Linked DNA regions of Homo sapiens: region 1 is linked to region 2. The links come from fine-mapping of genetic effects on gene expression. A gene starts in region 2. The other region holds a variant in brackets. All regions are shown on one strand. Distances are from middle to middle.

Evidence for each region. PIP is the estimated chance that this variant, and not a neighbour inherited with it, causes the effect.
Region 1: its variant is the best candidate, but not a certain one, in a credible set for the expression of HDDC2 in cerebellum (GTEx, PIP 0.78).

Annotation. Positions count from the first base shown.
Region 1 is chr6:125,572,176-125,577,556 of GRCh38, reverse strand. HEY2-AS1 (HEY2 antisense RNA 1) reads left to right here. Exons shown (of 5, transcript NR_183491.1): 5 at 1-29. Among named protein-coding and RNA genes, the nearest start is that of LINC02523, 99 kb to the left of the region's middle. The variant G/A (reference allele first, on the strand shown) is at 2,887.
Region 2 is chr6:125,299,838-125,305,218 of GRCh38, reverse strand. It overlaps HDDC2 (HD domain containing 2), which reads left to right and starts at 3,252. Exons shown (of 6, transcript NM_016063.3): 1 at 3,252-3,370; 2 at 4,560-4,681. The coding sequence starts at 3,287. RefSeq lists a cis regulatory region at 1,549-1,729 and a silencer at 3,223-3,562.

The sequences.
Region 1 (5,381 bases), 270 kb before region 2:
ATTTTAAATTAAACTTCTAAACTTCCCCATTGCAGGTGATGGCAACTCCATTTTTACAATCGCTTAGGCCAAAAAAACTTGACGTCATCCTTGACTCTTCTTTCTCTCTCATCTCACAAGCAATTCATCAGAAAATCCTGTCAGCTCTGCTTTCAAAATTTAACCAGAATCTGATTCCTTTGCATCACCTCCACTGCTACCACTCTGGTGGAGCTGCCAACATCTGTCACATAGATTAAGTCACACACACACACATGCACACACACACAGAGTGTATTCTCAGTCAAAGTGATCTTTTTAAAAGGGAAATAAGGCCATTCTACTCCTCTGTTCAAAACTTTCAAATGGCTCTCCACTTTTCTCTGAATATAAGCTCAAATCCATACAAGGACTTGTAGAGCCCCCGTTACCTTCTGACCTCATTGCCTCCTACTCTGATCTCTTATGCAGATCCTGCCCCAGTGGCTTCCTTGTTGCTCCTGGGTCACATAAGGAATGCTCTTGTTATTTGTTCCAACTCTTTCTCAGTGCCCTCTCCTTGATGTCTGCTTGGATATCTCCCTCACCTTCTTTAATTGGACCTCTACCTTTCACCATATACAAAAATTAACTCGAGATGAATTAAAGATTTAAATGTAAGACCTCAAACTCTATAAATTACAGAAGAAAATCTGGGAAATTCCCTTCTCAATGTCAGCCTTGGCAAAGAATTGATGGGTAAGTCCTCAAAAGCAATTGCAACAAAAAAATTGACATGTGGGACCTAATTAAACTAAAGAGGTTTTGCGCAGCAAAAGAAACTAGCAACAAGTAAACAACCTATAGAATGGGAGAAAATATTTGCAAGCTATGCATCCAACAAAGGTCTAATATCCAGAATCTATAAGGAACTTAAATCAACAAGCAAAAAACAACCCCATTAAAAAGTGGACAAAGGACATGAACAGACAGTTCTCAAAAGAAGACATATAAGCAGCCAACAAACATGAAAAAATGCTCACCATTGCTAATCATCAGAGAAAAGCAAATTAAAACCATAATGAGATATCATCTCACATCAGCCAGAATGGCTATTATTAAAAAGCCAAAAAATAACAGATGCTGTCAAGACTACAGAAAACAGGGGACACTTACACACTTTGGGTGGGAATGTAAATTAGTTCAGCCACGGTGGAAAGCAGTTTGGAGATTTCTCAAATAACTTAGAACTACCATTTGACCCAGCAATCCCATTACTAGGTATGTACCCAAAGGAACATATATCATTCTACAAAAAAGACACATGCACTTGCATGTTTTTTGCAGCACTATTCACAAAAGGAAAGACATGGAATCAACCTAGATGTGTATCAGTGGTGGACTGGATAAAGAAAATGTGGTACATATATACTATGGAATACTATGCAGGCATACAAAATGAAATCATGTCTTTTGCAGCAACATGGATGCAGCCGGAGGCCATTATCCTAAGGAATAGAAAACCAGGGCCGGATGTGGTGGCTCACACCTGTAATCCCAGCACTTTGGGAGGCTGAGGCAGGCAGATCACAAGGTCAGGAATTTGAGACCAGCCTGGCCAACATAGTGAAACCTCATCTCTACTAAATACAAAAAAATTAGCCGGGCGTGGTGGTGTGTGGTGGTAATCCCACCTACTTGTGAGGTTGAAGTGGGAGAATCGCTTGAACCTGGGAGGTGGAGGTTGCGGTGAGCCGAGATCGCGCCACTGCACCCAGCCAGGGCGACAGTGCAAGAGTCCGACTCAAAAAAAAAAAAAAAAGAAAAGAAAATGAAACCAAATACCACATGTTCTCACTTATAAACGTGAACTAAACATCAAGTACATGTGGAGATAAAGATGGGAGCAACGGACACTGGGGACTGCTGGGGTCGGGGAGTGTTAGAGGGGGTGCTGAGGAACTGCCTATGGGTGCTGTGCTCACTGCCTGGGTGACCAGATCATTCATACTTCAAACCTCAGCATCCCACAGTGTTCCCATGTGACAGACCTGCACACGTATCTCCTGAATCTAAAATAAAAGTTGAAATTGCTTTTAAAAAAAGACTTGGCTGAAATATCTCCTCTTTAATAAGGTCCACTGGGACTACCCTATTCCTACTGTCCCTTGCTGTCCCACTCACTTACCCTATTCAATTTTTAAATTCTTATTGCCTTCTAATTTACAAGGTAATTTACTTAATGTGTTTATTGACTCTCCCACCTACTTCTACAATACAATGAGGGCAGAGATCATTGAGCACTAGATCAATGTGTAGCACATAGTAGGCAGCTTATATAAATTTTCTGGAAGAATGAATGAATGAAACCTACACATTATGAGGTTGATTCTTTTGTGAGTGTGACATGAACTGTGACAGTACACTCCTCCAAGGTCTGAATCTGTGAAGTCACCTTCTTTCTTTGCAGAGGAAAACATTGGGGGGCCCTGAGGAGAAGCCTTTGCTGCAAGTGGACCACAAATTATGCAAGGAGTCTTGGGACAACATCCCTGGTAAACTCTTTCTGTGTTACATTTCGGGATGATGGACGTGGGTGTTGAGAACACTCTGTTTTTGGAGTTAGGACTTGTCCTTGTTTTCAATTGGAATTTGAATGACTGAGAAAAGCTGTGCAGATCGAGTTCCCTGCCTCCTGCACAAATATTTCCTGGTCCGGTTTCAGGTATCCCTTTCCTTAGGTGGGTTTGTCACTGAGGGATTAAAGCGCCTTGTGATTCAGAGCCTGGGCTGTCATGGTGGTGCTGACGCACGTGCAGTATCTTGGATCTCTATTCAGTTCCTCATTCATGCTCACCTTCAGGCTGAAATGAGGAATTTGGGCAGTGAAATCAAATGCCTGAACCTGAGGAGCACCCGCTGTTTGCC[G/A]TCTGTCCACCTCTCTGATCCCAGGACTGCCCTGCCTCTGGTGGAATGAAAGTGAGGTGAGAAGGGCAGATATCACAAATAAGAATAGGAGAGAACACTGTATACATATTAGGGAAATCTAAAGAAAAAAGATGGATGGCAAGGGCTGGAAGAAGGTGAATATATGGCAAGAAGAGATAGGTTGAAACTAGAAGGGGAGAAGTCAGGCTGAGACGCGGAGCTGACCCACAGGACTGTTCATTTGCTGTAATGCGCCCTTACTCCCTGGCATTTCCAAGCATTATGTTTCCTGGTTGCATGAGGAACATACTATTTATTTTTTTTCTTCATAAAATCTGGGAAAAGCTACTTCATCATTCAAAGTTGGAATCATTGCCAATAGGGGAAGAAAATATTTTTCCAAAATCTGCAAGCATGAGTTGCTTTAAAAATGTAGAGATTAAGAGGCTCTCAAATGACCCTCAGACCGCTAACTCACTTTCCAAGATATTCCACATTGGACTTCTAGCCATAACGAGATATATTCTTTTATACATCCAAATTGATGCTCTCCACACCACCTTTTGCAGGCTGGTTTCAGTCACTGGGAAATTTATGAACAGCAAATTACCTTTGTTCAATTGCTTCCTGAATATATGCACTGCAAGAGTAGCAGTGATTGTGAAACAGCAATGTATTGACAGAAGTCAAAAAAAAAAAAAAACTTAAAAAAAAAAAATGGAACCTATACGAAAGAGACTTTTCAGGTCTTGGGAGTGTCCAGTACAGGTCTTAGCAGCCTATGGAAAGGCCCTGTGTTGTCCAAACAGCCTCCTGTAAGGTAATGGCCATAGCAGCACATATAAAAGGAATGGTGGAAAGGTGCAAAAGTCATTAACGGGGAGAAATAGGAAGCAATCAGCAACACTTTAAGCAAATTATTACCATGAAATTACACTCCCAGCTTGAGATAAGTGTCCTGGATCTGTTAAAGCTATATACACCTCGCTGGCTTAAATGCGACTGAGGAAAGTTTTCCTCTTTGGGTTATTTATGAAGTGTTAGGTCATGATTGACGGTGGTGCTTGAGGAAAGGGGGGGCTGCCCAATTCTTCCCAGGCTTTCTGCAATGGCTAATTCCCTGTATTGAAGATTTGAGGAGAGAGGCTTTGCAAATACTTACTTGGACAAGAGGCTATCTTTCTGAAGGAAACTTATTGGACTGACTGCATTTTATTGAGGAGTTATTTTGAGTTGAAAAGTCCAGTGCTCTTTCCTGTATTACCATGGGAATAAGAATGTGGGTGTTTGCTGCTGGAGCTAACTTGGCATCCTAGTGGCTCCCACCCATGGCCCACTCTACTGTAAAGGGCTGTTTTCCTTTCTCCAAGAGTCTTGTACCTCCCCATATCCACTCCTCTGTGTTGAATATTCCTGTGACCAGGCCTTATGTTAGGTCCTATCATCATCTCTTGCTCCATCTTTTGGAATTGACTTTCAAAATGTTCTCAATTCATAATGACTCAGAAGCCAATGGATGTTTGCTTTTCTACCCACAACCCCACAAGTCTGCACATCTTGAGCTGCAGGATGATCCGGAACCAATCTCTTGCCCCCTTGATGCCCCATCAACAGCAGCTCAGACCATTGCACTTGGCGTGCAATGAGAGCACCTCTCTGCTTCAAGAAGCGTCATTCTCTGCAGCACACTTGTCTGTTTTTGAGTCTCTTGTCCGGCTGGCTGTGCTTTAACCTATTTGGGCTACACTGGTGTGTTGCTCCTCAAGGAACCAAGCTGGTACCCCGTGGCCCTAGGTGCTTTGATGGGCAGTGAGTTTTTCTGGTGCCTAACACTCTTCTATTGTATTTGTTTCCTGGATACACTATTCCAGCTCTCAACAGCCATCCTAGAGGTAGTGATAATTCTCTTTTACAGTTTCCCTTTGTTTCTTCTTGTATTAATCACAAGGAAATCTGTGAAAACATAAGGCTTTGATTTTTTTTAAGACTTTGAGTTGGATCTTGGATGTTCATTTTTGCAGAGAGGCAGAGGAGTTGGGGTACATACAGGGCATAATAAATTCAGACATATGGGGAATATAGAAGACTTGATATAAGTAAGGAATAAAGTTAATGAATTTTGATGTCATTGTAATACAGATTAGAACTGTACTCTCAAAATCTGTACAGTACTCTCTCAAAAATCTGTACTCCCAAAAATCTTAGAATTGTAAAATATTAGAATTGAGAGAGGATGTAGAAAAGATTGTGTTTAATCTCAAAATGAAAACAATAGTACCATCAACACATATGGTAAATATTGACATCCAGTCTCTCAAACCTTCTAGAAATAAGGAACTTGCAACCATACAGAGAAACCCATTTCAGTTAAAACAGCCAACATTGTTAGATATTTTGTTCTCTTATTTAAGTGCCTCCAAGTACTATCATTCTACTGCCATGTTTTGTCTTCTGGTGATATGTGAAAAATTAATAATGCAATCTTTGAATTGAAA
Region 2 (5,381 bases):
CTCTAGGGGAGAATCTAATTTTCCTGTCTTTTTCAGCTTTTAGAGTCTGCCTGCATTCCTTGGCTCATGGCCCCTTCTATCTTCAAAGCCAGCAATGGCCAGTTGAGTCTTTCTCCCATCACATCCCTTTGGCATTCACTCTTCTCCTTCCCTTTTCCATCTTTAAGAACCCTTGAGATTACATCTCACTCATTGGGATAATCCAGGATAATCTCCCTATTTAAAGTTCAGCTGATTAGCAAAGTTAATTCCATTTGCTACCATTCTCCTTTGCCATGTAATATAGAAATATTTGCAAGCTCTGGAAAAATTAGATATCCTTAAGAGGCTACTATTCCACCTTCTAGAGTCAAACATCTTGGTCTTTAATGATATAGTAGGAATAAACCTTGTTACGAACCCTGATGAACATCTTCAGTTTACAAAAGCAAGAAGTCGGCACTATATTTTGAGTTTTCACAGTAACAATTTACTTTTAGATAGTAATGTCCCCTCCAAAAATCCATATCATCTTTAAATAGTGTCCCTCAAAAACTATTTATACTCAATTCATAATTTTTCAGCAACTTGACGTCTTCCAACTTCTGATCACTTAGGAAACTGGAGAAATTCTTTACAGCTCACTACACAAAGTTAAGATAACTCACGTGTATTTTGCAAAGAAAGTTGCAAATACAGACAGAAATACCCATGGAAACTAAATCAAGCCTGCATGAATCAGGAGGAGCTCAAAGGAAATCAATGCATTGTTGGCAAAAGAAGACAAGGCTGCTCAGAAGGAACCGTAAGGGTTACACTGCACATTCACCAGCTAGCTTGCAGCCCCATTGCTTCATGGCACCTATCTCTTGAAAGCCCCTTACTACATCCTTCAGCAAATCCAACATCCTCATCTTCCTTATTCTCCTGGATCTTTTTGGTCATTTGCTTTCGTGTTCCTCCAGTGGACTGTCTGACTTTGCCTCTGATTCTTGATCCTTCTTTTTAAACCTTGATCCCTCCATTTTTTAATTTTTAATTTTTTAGAGACAGGTTCTGTTTCCCAAGCTGGAGTGATCATAACTCACTGCAGCTTCAAACTTCTGGGCTCAAGTGATCCTCCCATCTAAGCCTCCCAAGTAGCTGGGATAAAGGCACAAACCACACCTGGCTTGATATTTCCTTTATTTAGCACCACTTACCATCATAAAAATGGCTTCCAGGTCATTATCCTAACCACGTTTAATACAAGCCCCAATGTCCTTGGCATTTATTTGGTTCTTAGTCATATTTAATCTTGTTGCTGAACCAGTCTTCAAAAAAATTATTTCATGCCTTCTTTCTCCTTGTATTAGTCCATTCTTGCATTGCTATAAAGAACTACTTAAGACTAGGTAATTTATAAAGAAAAGGTATTTCATTGGCTGTACAGGAAGCATGGCTGCAGAAACTCACAATCATGGTAGAAGGTGAAGGGGAAGCAGGCATCGTCTTCACCTGGCAGAGCAGAAGAGAAAGAGAGCAAAGGGGGGAAGTGCTACACACCATTAACCAGATCCCATGAGAACTCACTCACTATCACAAGAACTGCAAGGGGGAAGTCTGCCACCATGATCCAATCACCTCCCACCAGGCCCCTCCTCCAACTTTGAGGATTACAGTTTGACATGATATTTGGGTGGGGTCACAGAGCCAAACTATATCACTCCTTAAACCTCAAATGCCTCCTCCTCTATTCACAAACATTCTAGCCTCCTTTCTTCCCAGAGGCCTAGCAAGATTGCACTCCACAGGCCCCCTTTGAAGTTAGACGTGGCAGTGTTACTTATTTCACCAATGATACGTAGACAAAAGGTCATATATCACTTCCAGAGACAGGCTTTAAGAGCCAGAGTGCCACTTTTCTTTTTTCCAATTTTGGCAAAAGAGAGCAAAGAAAGCCTCCTAGCTCCCTGAGTAAGGTTAGAGCAAGCAGCATCCTCTAGCTGATCTACAATAGACACTTAGCATGAGAGAGAAATAAACCTTTGATGTGTTAAACTGCTGAGATACAGGAAATAAGGAGGTTGTTTGTTATTATAACATCCCAGCCTATACTTTGCTTCCTAATTTGGTGAGAAAATAGAAGCAATCAGAAGAGAACTTCTACAACCTCCCATGACCACATGTGCGACTGATTAGTCACCCTATACTCTGTCCTCCTCCAATATTTGAATGAATTCTCCATATTCCTATCTAAAGCCCATCTTTTATCTTGTACACCAGATGGGAATATTTTTCCTTACTCAAGGCCGACATTCAAATATTTCTCTTCTTTGTCTCTTACATAATCAATGTTTCCCTTTCTACTAGATCCCCTTCATCAGTAAACATACATAATATCTCCTGTTTTGAAACAATCTCTCCACTAGTTAACAGCACCCCAACCCCATCTCCAATGTGCTGTAATACTTGCTCCTATTCTCTTCGGAATTATCTCACTAGGTTCTGCTTGGCCCACTACACTGAAAACTGCTTTTGTCAGGGTAACCAATAATATTGAATTTACTAAGTCTGGAAGTCAAACCTTGGTCCTCACATTGACTTGGTTGACCATATTCCTTCCTTCTTGAAATATTTTTGTACATGGCTTCCAGGACACAACTATCCTACCTACTAATCCTCTTCCTACCTCACTGGCTGTTCCCTCTTGATCTCACAAAGCCTAAATGTTGGGGTTCAGGTCTTGGGTGTCTTTTCTTCTTCATTCACACCCTCTTGCCAGGTGACCTCATCCAGTTTCATGGTTTTACACTGTCAACTGAAGAATAACGAGGTTCATAAATTTAGAAAGGAGAGCTTTATTTTTCATAAAGAGTACTGAGTGTCAAGTATGTGCCAAGCAAGGTGTCTGCCACTGACGGAGCAATGCCCAAGCAGCGGACACCAAGGCCAAGAAGGCGAAGGCTGGACAGAAGGTCCTGAGAAAACCGTGAGAATATGGAGGAGGGGGAGGAGGAATAAGAACAGGAGGAGGAGGGGGAGGAGGAATAAGAACAGGAGGAGGAGGAAGAGGAGGGGGAGAGAGGAAGAGGGGCAGGAGGAAGAGGAAGAGGAGAAAGCGGAAGTGGGGGAGGAGGAGGAGGAGTTGGAAGGGGAGGAGGAAGAGGGGGAGCAGGAAGAGGGGCAGAAGGAAGAAGAAGAGGGGGAGGAGAAAGAGATAGAAGAGTAAGAGGAGGGGGAAGAAAGACAAGGGGAAGGGGAGGAGGAGGAGGACGGGGAGGAGCTTCGCCGCGGCCTGCTCCGCCCAGCCGGGGTCGGTGGCCGCATGGCTTCGGTCTCCTCTGCGACCTTCTCGGGCCACGGGGCTCGGTCCCTACTGCAGTTCCTGCGGCTGGTAGGGCAGCTCAAGGTGAGCGGGCACCAGGCCGGGAGGCCGCGGCCGAGCGGGCGGGACTGTGGGGCGGCGGAGCTTCCGGCCTCCCCGCTCGGCCGGCGGTCTTTGCCCTTCCTGCGCCGCGTCCGCCACGCCGAATTCCGGAAAGGCCCCAGTCCTGCGGATGCGGCCGCGCGTTGCCGACGGTGGACGGAGGAAGCAGCCGGCGGGACAGGCTGGCCAGCTGGGGCGGCCCGGAGTCTGAGCCTAGAGCCTGGCGCCGCGAGGTCCGCACTGCAGCCGCGCCAGTTCCCGGAGAGCAGCCGGCCTGGCCCTGCCTGCACTGAGCTTTTCCGGGGCTCACGACCCCAGAACTCGTGTGTGTGTGTGTGTGTGTGTGTGCTCACGACCCCAGAACTCGTGTGTGTGTGTGTGTGTGTGTAAAGCGCGGCTGCTTCTGAGCACGGGTGGGAAGAACAGAATCTGTCGGCTCCTCAGATTTTAAGTGGAGCTTTTTATGTCTGTCTCACAGTTACTTCCAGAAACAAGACTTTTCTCCCGGCCACCCCCCAAACGGGATTTAATGTAATACACACGAGTTTCATCATGTGCGTCTTCCCCGTCTCTCTCCCAAGTTCAAAGTAAATTATCCGTTTCATGCCACTCTGACTACTATTTATAACATTCCTTAGAGATGTAGAATTCTGAGGAAGAAATGCAGTTTCACAAGATGAAGTTATGATGTGAATAAAAGGAAGAGTCACGGCTGGTAGCATCAAGCAATTAGAAGTGCCCTTATCCCTTGTGCCTCAGAATTTGGAAGCCTATCACTCGTTCACGTTCAGACCCTTCAATACAGTGTTTTCTGCTTGTGTAGGATTATTTGAAGGCAAAAAGCCGCAACTCTTGTTCGGAAAAATGCAGTTTTGTTTTTGTTTAAAGGACTTGCATATGTTCCATAATTATACATCAGTAACAGAATAATTTGACGAATGGACTTTGTGACTTATCTCTCTCTGTCTTCTACCCCTTTCATTCTCTGAGCTCTCTAGTTCATTTGATTCCAGATGTCTATCATTTTAGCTAGTTTAGCAAAACATTTTGTAATAGGTTCTGAAATTATGACCCGGCTTCTGTGTGTTATATCCTGGACATCTCTTGAAGAGCATAGCAGATAGTTAATATTTGTTCTTTAAAACTTCTTTTTCTTCTTCATATTTATCAGAGAGTCCCACGAACTGGCTGGGTATACAGAAATGTCCAGAGGCCGGAGAGCGTTTCAGATCACATGTACCGGATGGCAGTTATGGCTATGGTGATCAAAGATGACCGTCTTAACAAAGACCGGTAAGCTGAGCTGGACTTTGATGCTCGTGAGAGATTCTGGTCTATGGGTGTGCACCCGTTTTTACTACTGAGACCCATGTCAAATCCTTGTAGGTTAGTTTATAGGTCAAGAAAAATTATTTGAAGCAAACCATACAAATTTAGGATGTGGGTTATGTTGCCTCAGTTGTTGTAAACTGCAATCTGGGGTTTCTGTTGGCAAGTGATAGAGCCTGCCTAGGGTATCAGGGGAAACTTAAGTGTGATATTGGGGCCTTGAAGGTGAGTGTGTTATGTCTAAAATTCTAGCATTGTATTAGTACACTGTGTGCTCTTTCCTAGTGCCTTTTATGGATAGTAGTATCCATTCGTGAGGCTTCCTTTTGGAGTTGTGTGTGCAAGACATAGCTGAGAAAGAGGTATCTTCTCCCCCTTCATTTAATCGACAAGTGTTAAAATGCTTTTTGAGCACAGAACAAAAGTTTACTAGCATGTAAGAGAGTAAATAAATCCCAAGTGAATTACGCAGGCCCAAAATAGCTTCTGTAAGAAGTGAAATGTAAGTTATGGTCGAAAATGTTAAGTATTGTAAGAGCAGGGGAGATCACCTGTTCTTGGTTGATCTTAATGGAGGAGGTGCAATCTGAGTTGAGCTCAAAAGGGTTAACGTAGCCAGAGAGGTAGGAGAAGTCACTGCATGCAGAGAGAAGGGCAGATAAAC